2 separate regions of the Homo sapiens genome follow, and region 1 is linked to region 2. The links come from fine-mapping of genetic effects on gene expression. A gene starts in region 2. The other region holds a variant in brackets. All regions are shown on one strand. Distances are between the middles of the regions. Region 1 has its middle 18 kb from the start of SNORA53. Region 2 holds the start of APAF1 (apoptotic peptidase activating factor 1).

Region 1 (8,000 bases), 29 kb after region 2:
CAGCCTTCATTATCGTCATCATAACAGCTCTATATATTGATTACCTACCTTGTGCCAGTCATTATCACTAATCCTTACTACACCTTTACTAGCTATTAGACCCATTTTACAAATAAGGAAATGGAGACTTAGGAACATTGGGAATCTTGCAGTCACACTGTAGACCTAGGTCTGTTCAATTCCAGAGGCCAAGGACATCTCACTACACCATGGAGCCTGCTACTGTTCAACTAGGGGAGAAAAATCACAACAAATCTGCTGTTAGTAGAACTATCTCGATAACTCAAAAAGCAATAATTGAGTCAAATGTGTTCTCTACCATGTTGCCATTAAACCAGACTCAGTCCCTCAAAAGCTGTAGCTGTGCTCTAAAATTGTTTGGCCCTTGAGCATGAGAAGGAATCAATAAATGAATAAATGTTGGAGAAGAGGAAAAAGCAGTGCTGAAGAGTCCTAGGCTGTACTCCTCTAATCTATTAATAGGTTTTGCCACTGCATATTCTGGGCACTTTATTTTAGGGCTTAGGTTTTTTTTGTTTTGTTTTGTTTTTTGAGACAAAGTCTTGCTGTGTCGCCCAGGCTGGAGTGCAGTGGCACAATCTTGGTTCACTACAACCTCCGTCTCCTGGGTTTAAGCAATTCTCCTGCCTCAGCCTCCCAAGTACCTGGGATTACAGGTGCCTGTCACTACACCCGGCTCATTTTTTGTATTTTTAGTAGAGATGGGGTTTCACCAGGTTGGCTAGGCTGGTCTCGAACTCCTGACCTCAGGTGATCCACCCACCTCGGCCTCCCAAAGTGCTGGGATTACAGGTGTGAGCCACCACGCACGGCCACTAGGGCTTAGTTTTAAATAGTAAAAGGAGAGAATTATATCAATAATCCCTAAGATGCCTTCTGGCTTTAAGTGGTTTTATTTACTTATTTACCCTTTTTTTAATATAAAAAAAAGTAGAGGTGAGGGTCTCTCTATGTTGCCCAGGCTGGTCTCAAACTCCTGACCTCAACGGATCCTCCGTCCTTGGCCTCCCAAAGTGCTGGGATAACAGGTGTGAGCCACTGCGCCTGATCTAAATGGTTTTAAATTATACAGATCAATAAAATTTCCAGGTCCTTTAATAGAATTCAAAGAACCTAGCTGGGTGCAGTGGCCCACGCCTGTAATTTCAGCGCTTTGGGAGGCTGAGGTGGGTGGATCACGAGGTCAGGAGATCGAGACCATCCTGGCCAACATGGTGAAACCTGTGTCTCTACTAAAAATACAAAATTAGGTGAGCGTGGTGGTGAGCGTCTGTAATCCCAGCTACTTGGGAGGCTGAGGCAGGAGAATCTCTTGAAACCAGGAGGCAGGGGTTGCAGTGAGCTGAGATGGCGCCACTACACTCCAGCCTGGGCGACAGAGCAAGACTCCGTCTCAAAAAAAAAAAATCCTTTAGCAAGTTTTTAGAAAGCAGATTGGACCTAGAAATCATATTCTTGAACCATGTTGCTGTGCTTGTAGATCCAGGCAATGTTTAACATTACAGGACAGCATCTAACCTCATACCTTGAATATATGATAGGAATTTAATAAATATTCTGGCCGGGGGCAGTGGCTCATGCCTGTAATCCCAGCACTTTGGGAGTCTGAGGTGGGCGGATTACTTGAGGTCAGGAGTTCGCAACATGGTGAAACCCCGTCTCTACTAAAAAAAAAAAAAAAAAAAATAGAAAACTTAGCCAGGTGTGGTGGTGCATGCCTGTAATCCCAGCTACTTGGGAGGCTGAGGCCGGAGAATCACTTGAACTCAGGCGGCAGAGGTTGCAGTGAGCAGAGATTGCACCACTGCACTCCAGCCTGGGCAATAGAGTGAGACTCCATCTCATAAATAAATAAATAAATAAATAATCAAATCACTGATGTACTTTTTTTTTTTTTTTTTTTTTTCTGAGAAAGGGTCTGGTTCTGTCGCCCAGACTGGAGTGCAGTGGCATGATCTCAGCTCACTGCAACCTCTGCCTCCCAGGATCAAGCCATCCTCCCAGCTCAGCCCGGCTATTTTTGTAATTTTTGTAGAGATGGAGTTTCACCATGTTGCCCAGGCTGGTCTTGAACTCCTGAGCTCAAGTGACCCATCCACCCCGCCTCACAAAGTGCTGGGATTACGGGCGTGAGCCACCATCCCCAGCCTTCACTGATGTGCTGTTTTCAGCTACTGATAGACTCTAACTCTTCTATCCATCCTAGGCAAATAGGTTAACCAAACCCGAAGTAATTTTTAAAATAACTTAATACAACAATCTGTAGACTATTACCACACTGTATTGAGCTTATATTTTCATAAAGATCAATAGAAGTTCATGATACATTGCTATTATAAACAACCAAGTGAAACAAAGAGGTTTACTAACAGCTTCTTCCTAATAATCTGATCCTTCTAAGAATAAGCTAAGCTCATTCATCAACATCTTAATTGTTTAATTGCTATTAAGCTACTTTTACCAGAGTAGATACATTAATAAATGATAACCTGGTAATGAAATAGATTAAAGTAGCCGTCTAGTCCTTTCTCCCTTGGGAGATTGTTTCATCAAATACACTATGTTGCAAAACTTCCTCCTTAAAAATAAAATGTGATTTTGCAATCACTTCTTGGTTTCCTTCCTATTTGTGGCTACCGCTTAATGTCATACCCACAGGAACATTTCGCAAACTCACTTCTCTACCAAAAAACACATTTTGGGCCACCTTATCCACCAATAATTAATTTAAGCATAAAGCAATTGAGGAGAAAAATCCTCAAGTGTATTTTGAAATTAAACATTTATGATGGGGCGAAGTGGGGGGGTTGCTACTTAGAATTATTTTGTCCTACTGTCCCATTTCTGTACTTCATTATAATTATTTTGCAACTATATGGATGCTTCTTTTTAAAGCTGCCCTCAAAATAATATTCTGAGCATAATTCATTTTTATTTGTGTTAAGTAAAACTAAATGTATGATAACCAAAATAATCTCAAAAGGTTGGCATTAGCCAAGTAATCCAAATACAATTTAAGAAAGATAATTCAAGCTAGGTGTGGTGGCTCACGCCTGTAATCCCAGCACTTTGGGAGGATCACTTGAGCCAGGAGTTCAAGACCAGCCTGGGCAGCATAGTGAGACCCCCATCTCAAATTTTTTTTTTTTTTTTTGAGACAGAGTCTGGCTCTGTCGCCCAGGCTGGAGTGCAGTGGCACAATCTCGGCTCACTGCAAGCTCCGCCTCCCGGGTTCACGCCATTCTCCTACTTCAGCCTCCTGAGTAGCTGGGACTACAGGCGCCCACCACTACGCCCGGCTAATTTTTTGTATTTTTAGTAGAGACAGGGTTTCACTGCATTAGCCAGGATGGTCTCGATCTCTTGACCTTGTGATCCGCCCACCTCGGCCTCCCAAAGTGCTGGGATTACAGGCGTGAGCCACCGCGCCTGGCCTCAATTTTTTCTTTTAAGAAAGATAATTGATAAGAAAACATTGAAGAAATACACAATTATTTTAGAAAAAAAGATATCTTTAGATTAAACTGCATATTTAATTTTGTAAAAATGTTTTACAGTCTATTTGTTTTTATAAATTTTAATTTCAATTTTTTTGTTTTAGAGATGGGGGTCTTGCTATGTGCCCAGGCTGGAGCACAGTTGGTATTCATAGGCACAATCATAGCACACTACAGCGTCAAACTCCTGGACTCAAGCTTTTTTATTTCTTCTTTTCTGAATTTTAAGTAACACATTTATCGACATTCTGTGTCCCAAACTAAACTACAAACTCCCTAAAAGCAGAGACTGTTCTTGATCATACTAGGACATACTGTAGTACAGTATATGCTGTCAAATCAAACTAGTTTTGGTTATTAATAGAAAGTTATAATTTCCTACTTTACAACATAGTACTTTCCTAGAAAACAAGCTGAAAGTTAAATATGCAAAAGTCAAATGATTGACTTACACATTATAAATGGGATTCTTTTTCCAGAGTAATTACTGTATATCTGTCTTTGGGCATACGCATTAGCAATGTATTTCTAGCCATTTTACATTTGTTTCTTAATTTATTTTTCTTCATAATTGAGCACACAGTCCATAGGCTAATCTTCTGATTGAAGCTAAATAGTCTTACCTGATTTCCATCTTTGTTTTAATTGTACGACTTTATCCAACTTTGTGTGGTTTATGAGATCTACCCATCTTATCGCTATGTAATTTTCCCTTCTTCATTTTATTAACTGATGGCACAATGCAATAAAATGTCAAATATTTAAAGTTCGATAAAATACTCAACTCC[C/T]CAACACTGCTATATAGGCACGCACATGTGTGTGCACAGACACAGGACCATCACCACAAACAACAACAAAAATAACAACTCAAGATGTTGCCAGACACTTGGGTGGCTCCAAATGTTTATCAGTTAATGTGTCCAAGTTAAATCAAGGTGACAATTTAAGAGCTTTCAGTTCATAATGTATAGTGGGGAAGAAGGATGACATTGAAACATACAAAAGTTGAAAAACAGCTGCATTTGGAATCAGAATTTTAGAACCTTGGAAATTCTTTTCTTTTACTTATCTGTCTTCTCTACTAAACTAAGTTGAGGCCACAACTCGAGTTATACTCATCTTTATGTTCCACATATTTTGCATGCCTAACAACATACTAGGAACTTGAGAATTTGAATTATTCAAGGTCTCATGGATAGTTAGATAGGCCAGAAAACTGTTCATAAAAGTTACAGGCCAATAAAGCGTAGACATATAGTCTTGGACATTGGTCCCTTCATTCTAGCATTTGCTATAACTTATTTGCAGTTGCCTTAGACCCCGAATAGCCAAAGCAATCTTGAGCAAAAAGAACAAAGCTGGAGACATCACACTACCCGATCTCAAAATATATTACAAAGCTGTAGTAATCCAAACAGCGTGATACTAGCATTTAAAAAAAAAACATAGACTAATGGAACAGAGAGCCCAGAAATACTTCTACAAGTGTATGTTCAAATGATTCTCATCCAAGTTGCCAAGAACACACAAAAGGGAAAGGACATCTCTTTAATAAATGCTGTTGAGAAAACTGGATATCCTATGCAGAAGAATGAAACTGGACCCTTATATCAAACCATATACAAAAACCAATTCAAAATGAATTAAAGACTTAAATGTAACACCAGAAATTGAAAACCGCTGGAAGAAAACATGAGGAAAAAGCTTCTTGACGTTAGTCTTGGGAAAGATTTTTTTGAATAGAACCTGAAAAGAACAAGCAACAAAAGCAAAAATAGATAAATATGATTGTGTCAAACTAAAATCTTCTGTACAGAAAAGGAAACAGTCAACAGAGTGAAGAGACAACCTATAGAATGGGAGAAAATACTCATGAACCATAAATCTGAGAATGGCTTAATATCCAAAATATATAAGGAACTCAACTCAATAGCAAAAAAAAACCCAATTAAACAATGGGCTATGGACATGAATAGACATTTCTCAAAAGAAGACATAGTAATGGCCAACAGGTATATGGAAAAAAATGCTCAACATCACTAATTATCAGGGAAATGAAAAATTAAAACCACAATGAGATATCAACTCACACCTGTTAGAATATTTATTATCAAAAAGACAAAAGATAACAAGTGTTGGTGAGAATGTGGAGAAAAGGGAACCATCGTACACTGTGAGTGGGAAAGTATAGCCATTATGGAAAACAGTGTGGAGGTTCCTCAAAAAAAAAAAAACTAAGAATAATCATATGATCCAGCAATCCCACTTCTGGATATATATCCAAAAGAAATGAATCAGTATGTCAAGGAGTTTTCTGCACTCCCATATTCATTGCAGCATTACTCCCAATAGCCAAGATATGTAGAATCAACCTAAGTGTCAATCAACAGATGAATGATAAATAACACACACGCACACACACAAAATGCGGTTCTCCCTTTAAAAAGAAGGAAATCCTGTTATTTGTGACTACATGGATGAACCTAAACGATATTATGCTAAGTGGAATGAACCAGGCACAGAAAGACAAATACTGCATGATCTCAATTATATGTGGAATCTAGAAAAGTCAGACTCATAGAAGTACAGAGTAGAATGGTTACGAGGGATTGGAGGGGACAGGGTAGGACAATTGAGAGATGTTGATTAAAGAATACAAAGTTTCAGTTAAACAGGATGAATAAGTTCTGGAGATCTATTGTATAGTATGATGACTGTAAATAATAATAATATATACTTGAAAATTGCTAAGAGGCCGGGCGCGATGGCTCATGCCTTATAATCTTAGCACTTTGGGAGGTCGAGGCGGGCGAATCACTTGAGATTAGGAGTTTCAGACCAGCCTAGTCAACATGGTGAAACCCTGTCACTACTAAACAACAATCAGCCAGGCGTGGTGGCACACAACTGTGGTACCATCTACTCTGGAGACTGAGGCAGGAGAATCACTTGAACCCAGGAGGTAGAGGTTGCAGTCAGCAGAGATGGGGCTATTGCATTCCAGCCTGGGTACAGAGTGAGTGAGACTTCCATCTCCAAAAAAAAGAGAGAATTTCTAGGAGAGTAGATCTTAAATATTCTTACTACAAAAAAAAATACATGAGGTGATAGATATGTTCATTAGCTTGATTTAATCATTCACAATATGTGCGTAGATATGTATATCAAAATATTACATTGTACACAATAAATATATACAATTTTAATTTGTCAATTATACCTTAATAAAGCTGAAATAAAAAAGAACTTATGTTGCCTTGTCTCACCTAGCAAAGCTCAACTGGAGGAAACTTCCTTTTCCCTTCTCCAGCAACTGAAAAACCACATCACTGTCTCATGTAGCTCATTTTATTACTGTACAGAAGACCAATTGTGAAAATATTATAATGTAAAAAATGTAATTTCCAGGGACATTTCATGAAATTTTCTTAATGTTTCCTTCTTATTCATTAGTAATTCACTTACATTGTTCTAAATTCTCTTACTTCTGAAGTCGTCTTTTACCATATGCTTTCCAGAAGAACAGTAAAGTGTAGTTAAAAAATAACATAAGGCAGGGCGTGGTGGCTCACGCCTGTAATCCCAGGCATGGATTTAGGAGGCCGAGGTGGGCAGATAACCAGAGGTCAGGAGATCGAGACCAGCCTGTCCAACATGGTGAAGACCCGTCTCTACTAAAAATACAAAAAAAGTTAGCTGAGGTGGGGGCGGGTGCCTGTAATCCCAGCTACTTGGGAGGCTGAGTCAGGAAAATCGCTGGAACCCAGGAGGTGGAGGTTTCAGTGAGCCAAGATCGTGCCACTGCACTCCATCCTGGGTAACAGAACAAGCCTCTGTCTCAAAAAAAAAATTAAAATTAAAAAGAAATATAAAATTTAAGATGAATTTTAAATGGTAAGCTTCTAATACATTTAATCATTGTGATATTATATTTTCTTATAGTGGCAGAAATCTGAAGCTATCATGGAACAATTGAAGTCTTTTCAAATAATTGCTCATCTAAAGCGTCTACAGGAAGAAATTAATGAGGTAAAAACTTGGTCCAATAGGATAACTGAAAAACAGGATATACTGAACAACAGTCTGACGACGCTTTCTCAAGACATTACAAAAGTAGACCAAAGTACAACTTCCATGGCAAAAGATGTTGGTCTCAAGATTACAAGTGTAAAAACAGATATACGACGGATTTCAGGTTTAGTAACTGATGTAATATCATTGACAGATTCTGTGCAAGAACTAGAAAATAAAATAGAGAAAGTAGAAAAAAATACAGTAAAAAATATAGGTGATCTTCTTTCAAGCAGTATTGATCGAACAGCAACGCTCCGAAAGACAGCATCTGAAAATTCACAAAGAATTAACTCTGTTAAGAAGACGCTAACCGAACTAAAGAGTGACTTCGACAAACATACAGATAGATTTCTAAGCTTAGAAGGTGACAGAGCCAAAGTTCTGAAGACAGTGACTTTTGCAAATGAT
Region 2 (16,206 bases):
GTTAAATGGATTAAGGGCGGTGCAAGATGTGCTTTGTTAAACAGATGCTTGAAGGCAGCATGCTCGTTAAGAGTCATCACCAATCCCTGATCTCAAGTAATCAGGGACACAAACACTGCGGAAGGCCGCAGGGTCCTCTGCCTAGGAAAACCAGAGACCTTTGTTCACTTGTTTATCTGCTGACCTTCCCTCCACTATTGTCCCATGACCCTGCCAAATCCCCCTCTGTGAGAAACACCCAAGAATTATCAATAAAAAAATAAATTAAAAAAAAAAAAAAAAAAAGAAAATACTACTTTAAAAATATTTAAACAAACAAAAACAGACAAATAAACTATCTGTTGCCTTAAGTTTCCATTTTTTTAAATTTGTACTACCTAAAATTTGTAAAAATCGGCCAGGCACAGCAGCTCACACCTGTAATCCCAGAACTTTGGGAGGCCGAGGCGAGGGGATCACTTGGGTCAGGTGTTCGAAACCAACCTGGCCAACATGGTGAAACCCCATCTCTACTAAAAATACAAAAATTAGCCGGGTGTGGTGGCACACACCTGTAGTCCCAGCTACTTGGGAGGCTGAGGCAGGGGGACTGTCAAGAGGCAGAGGTTGCAGTGAGCTGAGATCATTGCACCCCAGCCTGGGCATCAGAATGGGGCTCTGTCTCAAAATAAAATAAAATAAAATAAAATTTGTAAAAATCATCCCAAGATTAAAGGTAAAGAAAGCATCCTGATATGGCTACCTAGTAAATTCTTTCATATTTTAATTTATGTACCTATTACCTAGGGTCAAAGGCCTTTTTCCCTAAATGTATAACTAAAAATTTAGGGCATTTAAATACATGCAAGAAAAGAGAAAACACTACCAGCTTTAAAAAGGCAAACAGACCAAATGACCATCTGATATGTAAATCTCTAACCATCACAATATAACATTTAGTTAAAAACTGAACCATTAATTCCACATTTCAGAAAGAATCTAAACATCTTGACTATGGGCACAAGAGGGAGCAATTTAGCTTTGCATGAGGAGGCTGTATTTACAATTCACTCAGAGAAACTAATTCAGAGAAAAGTTGCCTTTATTCAGGGAAAACTCCACACTACTTTCACAGGAGGCTTATCCTGGTAGCAATTAATAATCTAATAACACAAAGAAATCTTGGAAAGGACAGAAACAAATAGGAACACAGCCTATGAAGAAAGCATCCATGATTAAAAACCAACATACGAATACAGTAATGTAAAATGTCACTACTGTATTTAAAGATACGTCAATTCTTTACTATTTCCCTACAAATAAGAAAAAATTAAAGCATTGAAATTTCAAAAGACAACTGGGTTACTTAAAACTGTATAGACATAAATAGTTAAAAACTATATATATATATATATATATATATATATATATTTTTTTTTTTTTTTTTTTTTTTTTTTTTTTTTTTTGAGACGGCATCTCACTCTGTCACCCAGGATGGAGAGCAGTGGTGCAATCTTGGCTCGCTGCAACCTCTGCCTCCCATGTTCAAGCGATTCTTATGCCTCAGCCACCTGGGTAGCTGGGATTACAGGCATGCGCCACCACGCCCAGCAAATTTTTGTATTTTTAGTAGAGACGGGGTTTCACCATGTTGGCCAGGCTGGTCTCAAACTCCTGACCTCAAATGATCTGTCCACCTCGGCCTCCCAGAGTGCTGGGATTACAGGCACGAGCCACCACACCCAGCTAAAAGTTAACAACTTAATATTCTTTAATTTATGCCAATCACCACCCAAAGAAAACATTTCCATAGGAACCACAATTTTAATCAAATTTAGATCTCTTATATTATCTGTACTTTTAAAAGAAAAGGTTTTGCAATACAATTAAATGTCAAAAATCCAATGTTCCTGTATTTGAGAATGGAAGTGAACTCCAGAGATTAAAATTTATCTTTGGGAAAGCACCTATTCTTGAATTAGTGGACATACAAAGGCAGACTCCAGAGAATAAAGAACTAAATATGAATAATAAGACTGTAATAGGACTACTTGAACAAAACTCAGGAAACACAAGTTAGAAGACAAAAAAAAAAACTGATTAGTTTGACTACATCAGAGTTCTCGTCTACTGAGAACACCCAGGAAAAAAATTAATCAGATGGCAAATTAAAATAAGGTATTTAAAAGTCTAAAACCAGCTGAGCACAGTGGCTCACGCCTGTAATACCAGCACTTTGGGAGGCGAGGCAGGGGGATCACCTGAGGTCGGGAGTTCGAGACCAGCCTGACCAACATGGAGAAACCCCGTCTCTACTAAAAATACAAAATTAGCCAGGCGTGGTGGTGGGTGCCTGTAATCCCAGCTACTCAGAAGGCTGAGGCAGGACAATCGCTTGAACCTGGGAAGCAGAGATTGTGGTGAGCCAAGATCGCGCCATGGCACTCCAGCCTGGGCAACAAGAGCGAAACTCCGTCTCAAAAAAAATAAAATAAAATAAAATAAAAGTCTAAAACCAACAAAGTTTAATGTCTAGAATATATAAGAAACTCCTAAAAAGCAAAAAGAAAAAAAAATTGGAAACCCCAATGGAAAATAGACAAATAATATAAACAAAATCCATAAAAAAAGAAACCCAAAAGGCTAACAACAAGCTTATGAAGAAATGTTCAAACTTGAGTTACCAGAGAAATGCAAAGTAAAAGACACAACTTTATAGAAGTTTGCCTGGCAAAAATTACAAAGCTGGATCATACCAACCGTCACTGCACAAGTAGAATTATCGGAGTCCCCATACTCATCTGGGGGAAATGTACAGACTGGAGGGGAATCAAATTTGGTATTTGTATATCCTATCATTTAGTAATTTTGGCTGGACATGGTGACTTTCATCTGTAACCCCAGCACTTTGGGAGGCCAAGGCGGGAGCATCACTTGAGCCCAGGAGTTTGAGACCAGCCTGGACAAGATAGCAAAAACCTGTCTCTACAAAAAAATGTTTAAAAACACACCAAGCATGGTGGCTTACACCTGCAATTCCAGCACTTTGGGAGGCCAAGGTGGGTGAATTGCTTGAGCTCAGGAGTTCGAGACCAACCTCGGTAACATGACAAAACCCCAACTCTACAAAAAATACAAAAATTAGCTGGGTGTGTCAGCATGCACCTGTGGTCCCAGCTACTCCGGAGGCTGAGGTGGGAAGATCACTTGAGCCCAGAAGGCAGAGGTTGCAGGGAGCCAAGATTGTGCCACTGCACTCCAGCCTGGGTGACAAAGCAAGACCCTGTTTCATAAATAAATAATTAGCCAGGCATGGTGGCGTGTGCACCCAGCTCCTCAGGAGGCTAAGGTGGGAGGATCACTTGAGCCTAAAAGTTTGAGGCTGCAGTGAGCTATGATATGGCCACTGCACTCAGCCTGGGCAACAGGGTGACACTCTGTCTCTTTAAAAAAAAACAAAAATAAATAAATAATTACTAATTTTGCTCCTAGCTACAAATACCCAAGAAATTCTTACTCACATAGAAGTTCAACCCAGCTTTGCTGCAGCAGCAGAGAGTTGGATACAATCTACATATCCATTTACTTAGGGTAATGAGCAGTAAAATGGGTTGGTGGCAATCAGGTGTAACAAATAACATGTATACATAGCAACAAGGATAAATCTTAAAAACATTGTGTCATGGGAGATAAAAAACAGAATAATACCATAACATCTATGCAAATTTAAAATACCTGCATACCAACAACATACATATTTTACAAGAGTACACACTTTACACAGACATTTACAAAGAACATACATTAAATACATTAGGATTGTCCATGGAGAGGGGAAAGGAAATAAGAATAGGAAATTTTGAAATGGAAATAAATAAATACAGTGAAAAGCTCAGCCTAGTACAGATCTACTATAATAAGCCGTGAACTAAGGAATATGAATAACTCAGTCCTCTGAACTTGAGATCCCACAAAAGTACGAGGAATATGAATTAAGCTCACATGTACAGTTGCCAGTATCTCTAGGATTTTCTCAAAACAAAGTAGTTAAAACCTGTTCCAAGATAACAATTTATACAATATGACTCCTGAATATTTAATTCCATAGATTGTTAGTCAATTTTAATCCCTAGAATTGAAAATTCATCACAATAATGTAGAGCAATTTAAATGGGGAGAGGGAGTGTTCTTTTAAACCTATAAATTGGAATATTATAAATACACAAAGAAAGTTCATAATATTGAAAGGAAAACTCATTCCTTCACACTAAAGGAACTTAAGCTAAATTTATCCTGAAATATCCTTAGTGATCAACTTTGCAGTAGGGGCTTAAAAAAATCCTTGGCTCTGAGACTTGAAAGGAGCTAAGTCTCAGGAAACTTCTCTGTAATGATAGAGGGGAAAAACCAAGGGTTAGGAATCAGGCATACTTCTGACAAGAGTATAGTCTATACCACTTACAAAGGCTATGAAATTAAACTGAGGCCATGTGTACACATAGATATACCCTAGCCTCCATATTTCTAAGTCTCTTAGAGGCTTACTACTTATTCCAATCATTCTGTCTAAACTGTCTTAACCGTAGATCATGTTATACATACATATCAAAAAAAAAAAAACAAAAAACTTTTTTTTGAGATGGAGTCTTGCTCTTGTTGACCAGGCTGGAGTGCAGTGGTGCGATCTCAGCTCACTGCAACCTCCGCCTCCTAGGTTCAAGTGATTCTCCTGCCTCAGCCTCCCGAGTAGCTGGGATTACAGGTGCTCACCACCACACCCAGCTGATTTTTTTTGTATTTTTGGTAGAGACGGGATTTCACCATGTTGCCCAGGCTGGTCTTGAACTCCTGACCTCAGGTGATCCACGCCTCAGCTGGGATTACAAGCATGAGCCACCGTGCCTGGCCTACTAAAAAAAAAATTATTAACTACTAGAAGTTGGGAACTGTCTTTGAATTCCCCTAGAAGTGTCATACAGAGAGAACACACTGATGAATGAGAACACACTGATGAATGGGGGCAGCCTAGAACTGATGGAGCTATACAACTATTCCTGATGAATACCCTGAGAACCTACCAGGATCGCTAAGGTCAGTGGTATACCTGCCAACATTTCTTAAACCCTCTTCTACCCAGTATGCCCTTCCCCACCCCAGTAACCACCCACTACCTTTCCCACCTTCCCTAGTCTCCCATCCCTACCTTCACTGCCTAGCTAACTTTTATTCTTTCTCCAAACTCCTGCTAAGATGTCATCTCATTCAGGAAGCTTGTCCTATCCATCCCCTCCCTTCAGAGAGTTAACATATCCTTCCTTTGTTCTAACTCTGTACCTTATACTTGTTTCTACCATTCAATTTATCACGTATTGATATATCATAATATTTTTACATGTCTATCTACCTTACTAGACTATGAAATGGACTAAGACACTTACCTTCTAAAAGGGAATGATCTCTAACAGCTTCTGCAGCTAATACAGACTTCCCACAGCCTGCCATTCCATGTATGGTGACCCATCCTGGTTCACCTTTCAATTTGGAGAGCTTCTGCTGAATTGCATTCACCAGCTTCTTCCTTGTGACAAAAACAACTGGCCTCTGTGGTACTCCACCTTCACACAGGACTGTCCTTACTAAAATCCAAAACAAAACAAGCATGAATGAATAGAACTTTGGAATAATTACTGAAGTAATACCATAAAAAACAAAGAGCAAAGCTGAGGCTTAGCCTGAAAATTTCCAAGAGAAGTTAAGAAAATGTGGCTAGCATATTAACTTCAATTTTCTGATTTCTCAGACAACAGAGAGCAAAGACAAACATATATCCTTCAAGATGACTAAAGAAAATGGAAGTTTCTATCTATATCTGCTTTACTCACCCAATTATTTCCTGACTTTTCATTCCCTCTCATATTGAAGACTGGGAAGGCAAGTGTAAAAGGAAGAACATTTATGGAATACCTTTCAAGAACATATATTTCTAAAGATTCTTATTTTTTCCTATAAACTCTATAAACACATAGAACTGGAAAATAAACAAGGGCCTATAAATTGTCTTATTGTCTCTAAAAATTAGGGTAGACATATTATTATCTCAGCAGTACAGTTCACTGGGCAAGAAGAAAAGTTGAGAGTTAATGTGGATGCAAATAAAAAATATTTAAATTGAAAACATCACTACAATTTTTTTAACATGCAGTTTTCAGTGAACTGGTCACACTCTCTTCAAAAGATTACATCTACAATAAGACAAACCCAAAGCAATTTTGATAGCAAAGTGATAGAAGGTATAATGGATACAAACCATACGAAGTTATTCCACTAACTGAATCTTTACCACTGGAAGAAGAGACAACAGGAATGCCATCATGGAGAAGGGCAGCAAGATCTTTATATCCTTCATGTAGTAGAGCATTGTAGAATGATACGTAGGAATCATTATCTTTTTTAAGTATCATTTTAATCAGCATAGCTGCTCTTTGCTGTTGAGTGGGCTAAAAAAAATTAAGTAGTTTAGTATACAACAATGAATATGTATGCAACATAAAGTAGTGGAGACCAGTACAAGTTCTGAAATTCTAAAAATTTTTAAGGAAGTGTGGACTGCTTCAGAGAGCTTTACCTCATTTCTTACTTTTTCCTCTTCTGATATTGTTAAAAATCCATCACTAATCATGTGATCCATGATGTAGGATGTCTTGATGTCCTTTTCCAGAGCTTCTCTATGTTGAAGCAAACAATTTCGAGCTTTTGCATCCATCTTCCCTCAGATCTTTCTCTCTCTGAGCTGTCAACCATGAGCTACAGCCAAAACACCAAAATATTTGTCAGGCCAATAAAAATATGAAAAGATACATAATCTCACTAATAAACAAGAAACGTAAAAAGAACAAAACTGATTTTTTTTCCTTGGCAAAAATTTTTAAATGGACAAAACCCAGTGCTTGGAAAGGTATGAGAAAATGGCCATTCTTATGCACTAATTGGGGAAACTAGAAAATGAATGCAATTTTTCTGGAAAGCAGTAAGATATGGAATTGTTTAAAATAAGCTTTCTCTCTAACCCAGAAATCCCATTTCTAAGGATTTACTTCAAGGAGACATTCAAATACATATGTAAAAATATCCACAAGGAGAATTAATGAGTTTCCAATCAGGTGTGGTAGCTCAAGCCTATAATCCCAGCACATTGGGAGGCTAGAGTAAAAAATAAAAAGAAAAAAGAATTAATGGAGGATGTTTCAGTGATGAACGCAACCTAAATGTCCATCATTCTGAATATAGATTTTAAAAATTAGGGTATGTATATAAAATGGAATATTATGCAGCCATTCAAAATTATGACACATATCTCCATGTATTGACATGGAAAGATGTTCATAATACTGTTGCTGAAAAAAAAAAAAAAAAAAAACAGAAACATGATCCCACATACAACACATAACGTGGGGGCCGGGCGCAGTGGCTCATGCCTGTAATCCCAGCACTTTGGGAGGCCGAGGCGGGTGGATCACGAGGTCAGGAATTCAAGACCAGCCTGGCCAAGATGGTGAAACCCTGTCTCTACTAAAAATACAAAATTAGCCAGATGCAGTGGCAGGTGCCTGTAATCCCAGCTGCTCGGGAGGCTGAAGCAAGAGAACTGCTTGAACCAGGGCGGCAGAGGTTGCAGTGAGCCGAGACCACTCTACTGTACTCCAGCCTGGGCGACAGACTGAGACTCTGTCTCAAAAAAAAAAACAAGTGTTGGTATCATATGAATATATATAGACGTTTAGAAGTTTATTCATCGAAATGTTTGAGTTACTTCTGAGTAGCAAAATTTGGGATTTCTCCCCCACCTTGTCTTATTTTTTTTTTTTTTTTAGTACAGACGGGGTTTCACCATGTTGACCAGGCTGGTCTTGAATTCCTGACCTCAGGTGATCCACCCGCCACAGCCTCCGAAAGTGCTGGGATTACACTTGTGAGCCCCACCATGCCCGGCCTCTACTGTCAATTTTTTTTAGCACACATTATCATTTCTTACAATAAAATACTTCCTTTTTTAATTAAGATTGTATAAAATAGTGATTACATTGAAGTCCTAATATTAAGAGACTTCTTGTTTTCCTTATCAAACATAAGAGTGAATAGAGCATTGTTACTATTGAGTATTAGTTCTCGTTCAAGGAGGATGTCAGCTCTAGGTCCTCCTTGCTAAACACATTTCCCACAAAGCAACAGGAAACACTTTCTGATGTGATTTCTCAGACCAGGAGGACATGAGGAAAGAATAACAGCCTTTATAGTAAAATACTTGACGTTTCTAGCAACTTTATTTCAAATATAATGCAAATTTTTCCATGGGCATAAAACCCAGTTCACAATATCTGCAAGTTTTCAAAACATTAACAGAACTTTACACAATGTATAGAGTGAAAGAGTCTAAACGGGTTTATCAATTCATTCATTCAATACACATTTGTGCCCCTCCCTATATGTCAGACACCAAGACTACAGAAAAGATTGAGTCATTTGCCTGAAATAATTCACAGTCTACTCAAAGAAGAAAAAGAGAGAGAGAGTGGGAATGTGAATGCCCGAAGTGCAAAAACAGAGCACAAGTAACTTGGAGCTCACAGAAGGGGGCAATAATTATCAAGCTTCAATGACTGTTTTTGAAGTCACCAAATGTAGCACTTGGAAAAACAGGGACGGACGTAGGGCATTTGCCTATGCTTGTCAAGGCTTACAAAATGCCCAGCAGGGGCACAAAACTGATAAAAAGTTATTGATTCGAATCAAAACTCTCATTTTTTAAAATGTTAATAACGTTTTTGTCCTCTTAAACATAAAATGTTCCTTAATTTATAGTAATGAAATTCGATGTGAAAAAACAAGAATGAATGAATTTTTTAGGTGATGTCCAATAGCTAAGCAAATAAGACACTCTGGTTTTCTGAAACTAATTTCCAATTTCACCTAGTCCTGTTAAACTAAAATATGCAAATCTTAAATACGTTTTAAAACTGCACAACTTATCTGAACTAAGTCTCAAAACCTTTTGTAACCCACAACAAAATGGAAAGCCAAAACTCTTCATGGACGTAAAACAGAAAACAGCGCACGTTTATCCACGAAAACCCCAAGTTTACTACTTCCTCATTACAGAATTTCTCTTCCTGGTACAGGAGCAGGATGGTTATCAAATATTCCATGTCCTCAAATTCTCAGTCCCTGAAATCAGCTACCAAGCCTCCAAAGAACCTGGCTCGGGGAGAAAAGCGAGGAGGTCAACTTACCCAAGCCTTTGCGCCTAGGTCTTAGTGGGGAGGGCGGCACTGCCGGGACAAGACTGGGAGACTCCAGGCCGGTGGAGGGAAACGGCAACAGGAGTTTTCCACCGGGAATTAGGGGTGCAGGGCTCTGTCTCGCCACATACCCTTCGCCCCGGGGCAGGTCCGGGCCTCACAGGCGCCTCCCCTGGATCTCTGCAGCCCCGGGGCGCACGAAGACCCCCAGGGACCTCCGAAGGTTGGCGAGGTGGGCGTCCACCCAACGCAGCCTGACCCCACAGTCCCGGAGCGCCGCGGTGAGGCCCGGCCCACGGGCCGCCCTCCGGTGGACCCCACTACTGGACACAAAGGGAGGAGGTCTTCCCGGCCTGTGGCGCCCTTCCCCCGACGGCGGCTGCACCCCGGAGGGAGCCCGGCGCTACTCCGGATGCCGCTGCGGCACCTCAAGTCTTCGCGGGTCGCCGACTGCCCAGACTCCCCACCTCTGGTTCTATCCCTTTTGCCCGGGATAGAGCAGTCACGTCCACTCGCTACCTCTTCTTCTCCGCCTCTGGACAGCGGAGCAGTCAAATCCCGCCGGATCCACCCAGCCCGGACGGCGCGCGCCCGCTTATGCAAATAAACACACCCCAAGCCCCAAGGGGCGGCCACCGCTGCCGCCGCGCACTCCTGCCACGGCTCATGCCCGCGCGCGTAGAAGTGCCCGCCTACCCCGCGGACGGGGCGTGGCTAAGCCTCAGGGACGCGCCGCGTTCCCACCAATGCCGGACTCGGGCAGCGGCGGCGCGCCCGACGTGGCGCGCGCGACCCCTTCGTCCTGCCCCTCCTCCTCGGGTCCCGTCGGCCTGCGCGCGCCCGGGAGTTTGAATTTCCTCGGATTTGGAGCAATATCGCAGTGGAAGGCGCTGTGGGTTGAGGTCGCCGCCCACCTCTCCTAGGGGAACTATGGAGCTGGCAGCTGAAAGACTCAGTGAAGCAACGAGGATGCCGGGGAGAGGGAAGGGGCTGGGCTCTGGGCGGTGCCAAGTCTGTGAGGGGGCGCGGTCACCGCCCAGGGTTCCCACGAACGCCAAGGCGGCCACGTCCTGCTCCCCCTGGTGAAGAAGCTGCCCTGGGCTTGTCGTCCTAGGGTCTCCAGACATGTCTGAGGTGAAGAGCCGGAAGAAGTCGGGGCCCAAGGGAGCCCCTGCTGCGGAGCCCGGGAAGCGGAGCGAGGGCGGGAAGACCCCCGTGGCCCGGAGCAGCGGAGGCGGGGGCTGGGCAGACCCCCGAACGTGCCTGAGCCTGCTGTCGCTGGGGACGTGCCTGGGCCTGGCCTGGTAAGTGGACGCGAGGCTGCCTGGGCCGGCCTCCTGTGGGCCCCCTGCTGTTTGGGCTCCCACCCGGCTCAACATCCAGCCGGAGGTGATCCAACCTCCCAGACCTGGGCCTTCTGTGCCTCTGTCTTGACCCCAAAGGAAGGAAACAGCCCAGCCTTGTTTTTCCCTTTCGGGCGTTTCTTGTATCTCATTTCCCCCCGTGCTGGTAGCATGCCCCTATCGCTCAGAAGGAGTTGAGGCTAAGGTTTGGGAACGAGCCATTTGTTAAGAGCTGCAGATTCGGCCACGCTTTCTGAAGCTCCCGCTACACGTCAGAAGCGTTCACGTTGTTATAAACCGTTACTTCCTGTCCGCTGTGCCCCATTCCGGGACACATCTGCCCCACCCTACTCACCCCATAAATACCTAATGGAAATACTTGCAACCTTAAAACAGATCATTATGTTTGGAGACCGAGGCAGGTGGATCACTTGAGGTCAGGAGTTCGAGACTAGCCTGGCCAACATGGTGAAACCCCATCTCTACCAAAAATACGAATAATCAGCCGGGCGTGGTGGCGGGCGCCTGTAGTCCCAGTTCCTCCGGAGGCTGAGGCAGGAGAATCGCTTGAACCCGGGAGGCGGAGGTTGCTATGAGCCAAGATCGCATCACTGCACTCCAGCCTGGGCGACCGAGCGAGACTCCGTCTCAAAAAAAAAAAAAAAAGAAAACCATATCATTATGCTCCCAAAGGAGCAAACGTTATAGTAGCAGAGCTTGGAGGAGTGCTCATATTTTGATCACCGTGCATGCATTATGAATTTAAGGTCTTTTATTAAGTAAGTTACAGATTGAATATGGTAAAGCTACAAAAACATAGCACTTGTGTTCACTTAAAACTAACCAGTTGCAGTTTTAAAATCAGGTAAATGGCGATATATTGGTGTCATTAGGAAAAATGAATATTAGAAATAACCTTAAAACCAACTCGTAAAAAAAGAAAAAAGAAAAAAACCAACTTGTGAATTTTATTTTCCCAGCCTTTTTTTTTCTGGCGGGAGGAGGGAATAGCCCATTTCATTTTAATAAGATTGGCATCTTAATAGAATTTTTCTCCATTTTTCATTCATGTGTAAAGTTATTTAGTAAGACTGTTGTTAATCTTCCAGAGTGATAGAATTTTAGAAGAGACCCTGGACATCTAGACATTTTTTATGCTACTACATATGGAATTATACTTTACTGGTGACTCATCCCAAATAGTGTATTTTTCAGAGTTAAAAGATTTGTTACGGCTGGGCGCGGTGGCTCACACCTGTAATCCCAGCACTTTGGGAGGCCGAGGTGGGCAGATCATGAGGTCAGGAGTTCAAGACCAGGCTGGCCAACATGGTGAAACCCTGTCTCTACAAAAAATACAAAAATTAGCCAGGCTTGGTGGCACAAACCTGCAATCCCAGCTATTCAGGAGGCTGAGGCAGGAGAATCACTCGAAATGGGGAGGTGGAGGTTGCAGTGAGCTGGGATCGTGCCATTGCACTCCAGCCTGGGCAACAGAGCGAGACTCCATCTCAAAAAACAAACAAACAAAATTTTGTCACAATAAAGTGATTAAACGCCCTCTTCAAAAACAATAGAATTGTCAGCCTGCCGGCAGTGGCTCATGCCTGTACTCCCAGCACTTTGGGAGGCCAAGGTGGGTGGATCACCTGAGGTCAGGAGTTTGAGACCAGCCTGGCCAACATAGCAAAACCCTGTGTCTACTAAAAATACAAAAAAGCCAGGCATGGTGGCATGCTCCTGTAATCCCAGCTACTCAGGAGGCTGAGGCAGGAAAATCACTTGAACCCAAGAGGCGGAGGTTGCAGTGAGCCGAAATCGTGCCACTGCACTCCAGCCTGCAGGATGGAGCAAAACTCCTTCTCAAAAAAAAAAAAAAAAAAAGCAGATAGCATTATTTATTTTACTAATACGGAATATGTTAATTTTGATCTGAAAGGAATAAATGTACTGAATTTACTGTTTTAAATAAACGGCTCTTATGCCTTAAAATGCTTGACCTCCTTTAAGTAAATTGAAAAAAAAACCTTTTTGGGCCAGGTGCAGTGGCTTGCGCCTGTAATCCTAGCACTTTGGGAGGCCGAGGCAGGCGAATCACTTGAGGTCAGGAATTTGAGACCAGCCTGTCCAACATGGTGAAACCCTATCTCTACCAAAAACACAAAAATTAGCTGGGCCTGGTGTAATCCCAGCTACTCAGAGGTTGAGGCAGGAGAATCACTTGAACCTGGGAGGTGGAGGTTGCAGTGAGCCAAGATCTGCTACTGCACTCCAGCCTGGATAACAGAGCGAGACTTCGCCTAAATAAATAAGTAACCTTTTGTGTTTTGGGAAAGTTAGTTACTATCCTGGGATAAGCTTTAATAGAAAACTAAACTTTATGGGAATAAAATTTCCCTCACATCAGGAATTTGCTGTTAGTGATTCCTGTATTACATTGTAATGAATGTATTACATTCATTAGGAAGATTTAATTTGAACTATGTTTGCAAAATGATAACACAATGCTATATCAAAAATAATTTTGGGGGCCAGACCCAGTGGTTCATGCCTATAATCCCAACACTTTGGGAAACTGAGGCGAGAGAATTGCTTGAGGTCAGGAGTTTGAAACCAGCCTGGGAAACATAGTGAGACCGTGTCTACGAAAAATTTTTAAATATTAGCCAAGTGTGGTGGCATTCGCTGTAGTCCCAGGTACTTGGGAGGCTGAGGTGAGAAGATAGCTTGAGTCTGGGAAGTCAAAGCTGCAGTAACCCATGATTATACCACTGTGCTCCAGCCTGAGAGACAGAGCAAGACCCTGTCTCTCTAAAATGTATGTATTATATGTGTTTTTTATGGGCAGATTCTATAATTATTATTTAAATAGTTGCCTCTTAGTTGCTCTTGTGAAATCTTTTGCTGCAAAAATTGAAGCAAATGTACTTTGGTTGCTGTTTATTGCAAAATATTTATTCATAGTAAATTTTGAAATAAAAATATATCCCCATAAGACATTTGTAAACATTTTCCAGATAAAAAGCAAGTATTTGGCATCTTAAAATACTTAAAAGCTCACTAGAATTTTGACAAAGCCATTGAGATCTTTACCACTAAAACACGTAATTCAGCATCTAAAAGTCGGTCTATCAAATCTTTATTAAATGCTTTCCGTACTGACACGGCCCTGGTGGTTAAAATACAAGTGCATATGTGTGCCTGTCTGTGTACTCTTAAATACTGCTTACTCTCACTCTTCATCTGATTAAGTTGGAGGGAAAAAATCTGAACCCTTCCACTGCCCAAGAAGGATTTCAAGGAATCACACTATATCATTGTCTTCAGACCATTTCCTATGTGGAAAGAAAAGAGAAATAATACATAAGAAACTTAAAAGTGTGTTGCTTTAATATCTTCTCTCTGCTAAATAAAGGCCTGATAGGCCAGGTGTGGTGGCTCCCACCTGTAATCCCAGCACTTTGGGAGGCCGAGTTGGGCGGATCTTGAGCTCAGGAGTTCAAGACCAGCCTGGGCAACATGGTAAAACCCTGTCTCTACAAAAAATACAAAAAATTAGCCAGGCATGGTGGCGCATGCCTGTAGTCCCAGCTACTTGGGGGGTTGAGGTTGGAGGATTGCTTGAGCCCCGGAATTTGAGGTTTCAGTGAGCTTTGATTGCACCACAGCACTCAGCCTGGGTGACAAAGTGAGACCCTGCAAAAAAAAAAAGGCCTGATATATCCTATGTCATCTTGACAATAAACACTGGAGATAAGTTGCCCAAACCCATATGGCTTGAGTGTCAGTTTGCATAGCTCTTTTCTAAACTCTTATAGAAATTTTTCAGGTAAGAATTGAGGTGATTCTACTTTCAGAAAGTTAAAAAGTTGTTAAATTACTAAACAAGACACAAAACCTGTCACTCATGCTTATTTAATTACATAGAAATTTAATCAGCTGGAATTTCCATTGTGAAAATTTTGTTTCTTATGGAAACTTCAATAGATTTTTTAATTGCTTTTTTGTTTTGTTTTGTTTTGTTTTGTTTTGTTTTGTTTTGAGAGATGGAGTTTTGCTCTTGTTGCCCAGGCTGGAGTGCAGTGGCGCAATCTCAGCTCACCGCAACCTCCACCTCCACCTCCCAGGTTCAAGCAATTCTCCTGCCTCAGCCTCCCGAGTAGCTGGGATTACAGGTGTGCGCCACCACGCCCAGCTAATTTTGTATTTTTAGTAGAGACAGGGTTTCTCCATTGGTCAAGCTGGTGTCAAACTCCCAACCTCAGGTGATCTGTCCACCTCAGCCTCCCAAAGTGCTAGGATTACAGGCGTGAGCCACCGTGCCTGGCCTAAATTGCCTTTATAAAAGTTTTTTATAGTATCTGTTATAATTATGTACAAAAAGTCAAAAGCTCTTTAAGCAAGTTGTATAACTCTGGTTTTTGTTTTAATTATCCAATATAATTTTCTCTATAAATCATACTGTAAAACCTTGGCTAACTCCATTTCCAGCTTTTTTCTTTGTGTTAGTAGAGTTTTATCTAAAAGACAAGGGTATAATTTAAATGTCCTGCTTCTTAAAAATGGAATATGGTCAAGGTTTTCTTGAAAACTAGGTATTGTGCTAAAACTGAGGCTATAGATGGTATGAAACATAGGGCTAAATGGGTACTGACCCTAATAGTGGCCCTGGAACTTCTTTCCTTGCAGAAGGTCCGTAACAGCTTCCTTTGGTTATTTGCCTCTTTTTCATTATTAAGCTGAAATAGAGCCAGAGGAAATCCTGAATTTGTAAGTCCTCAGTCAGCTGTCTGCCACCATTTAACGTTCCTAAAGGAGCTATTCAGAGGCAACACACACCATTAATTACCACCATGCACTGTAGGAAAATGTAAACCATTCATTATCACAGGACCCTAGATAGATCTGTATGAGGTCTCTATAGACTGCAATGGCTCATGAAGGAGTCAGGAAGATTCTTTTTGTAAGGCCTACGCTAAAAGTAGCCTGGGTCCCTTTCTCCTGTATCTCACTCTTCCACAAGGCCATATGATATGATAGTGAGAAGAGGCCCAAAAACGAGAGTTATTTTTATTTAGTGATTTATAAGTGGTCTAATCCATCTATTCCATCCTTCATTTGCCATAAACACAACCCAGTTTATACTTAGTGTTCAAAGGGGGACAGGCCTGGGGCTTCTATCAAGTGCAAGTGGTCGGGAACCCTGCTTCCCTTATGCAATCATAGGCATGTAGGAAGGATGGAAGAGTAGCTGCACAAAGTAGTCCAAAAGAAAGATAGCTGGTCTTGTTGATGGGCACCTGTAATCCCAGCTAGCTGGGAGGCTGAGGCAGAAGAATCACTTGAACCCAGGAGGCGGAAGTTGCAGTGAGCCGAGATCACACCACTGCACTTCAGCCTGGACAACAGAGTGAGACTCCATCTCCAAAAAGAGAAAAAAAAGGGGCCACAGTACTTAAAGGAAATAGCTGATGTGCTATGGCTCTATTGTTCCAGGAGCTTTTATAAATAGCAATAACTAATGTCTACAATAACTCGGCCAGGCATGGTGGCTCACACTTATAATCCCAGCATTTTAGGAGGCCAAG

The links. PIP is the estimated chance that this variant, and not a neighbour inherited with it, causes the effect.
Region 1: its variant is the best candidate, but not a certain one, in a credible set for the expression of APAF1 in whole blood (INTERVAL, PIP 0.65).

Annotation. Positions count from the first base shown.
Region 1 is chr12:98,613,801-98,621,800 of GRCh38, reverse strand. It overlaps a transcript of IKBIP not described here. Among named protein-coding and RNA genes, the nearest start is that of SNORA53, 18 kb to the right of the region's middle. The variant C/T (reference allele first, on the strand shown) is at 4,307.
Region 2 is chr12:98,638,896-98,655,101 of GRCh38, reverse strand. APAF1 (apoptotic peptidase activating factor 1) reads right to left here and starts at 9,812. Exons shown (of 27, transcript NM_181861.2): 1 at 9,267-9,812; 2 at 6,605-6,783; 3 at 6,287-6,476; 4 at 5,418-5,615. The coding sequence starts at 6,742. It overlaps IKBIP (IKBKB interacting protein), which reads left to right and starts at 10,314. Exons shown (of 3, transcript NM_153687.4): 1 at 10,314-10,579. The coding sequence starts at 10,401. RefSeq lists enhancers at 4,540-5,739, 9,714-10,341, 10,342-10,968, 10,969-11,596 and silencers at 9,408-9,617, 9,938-10,137.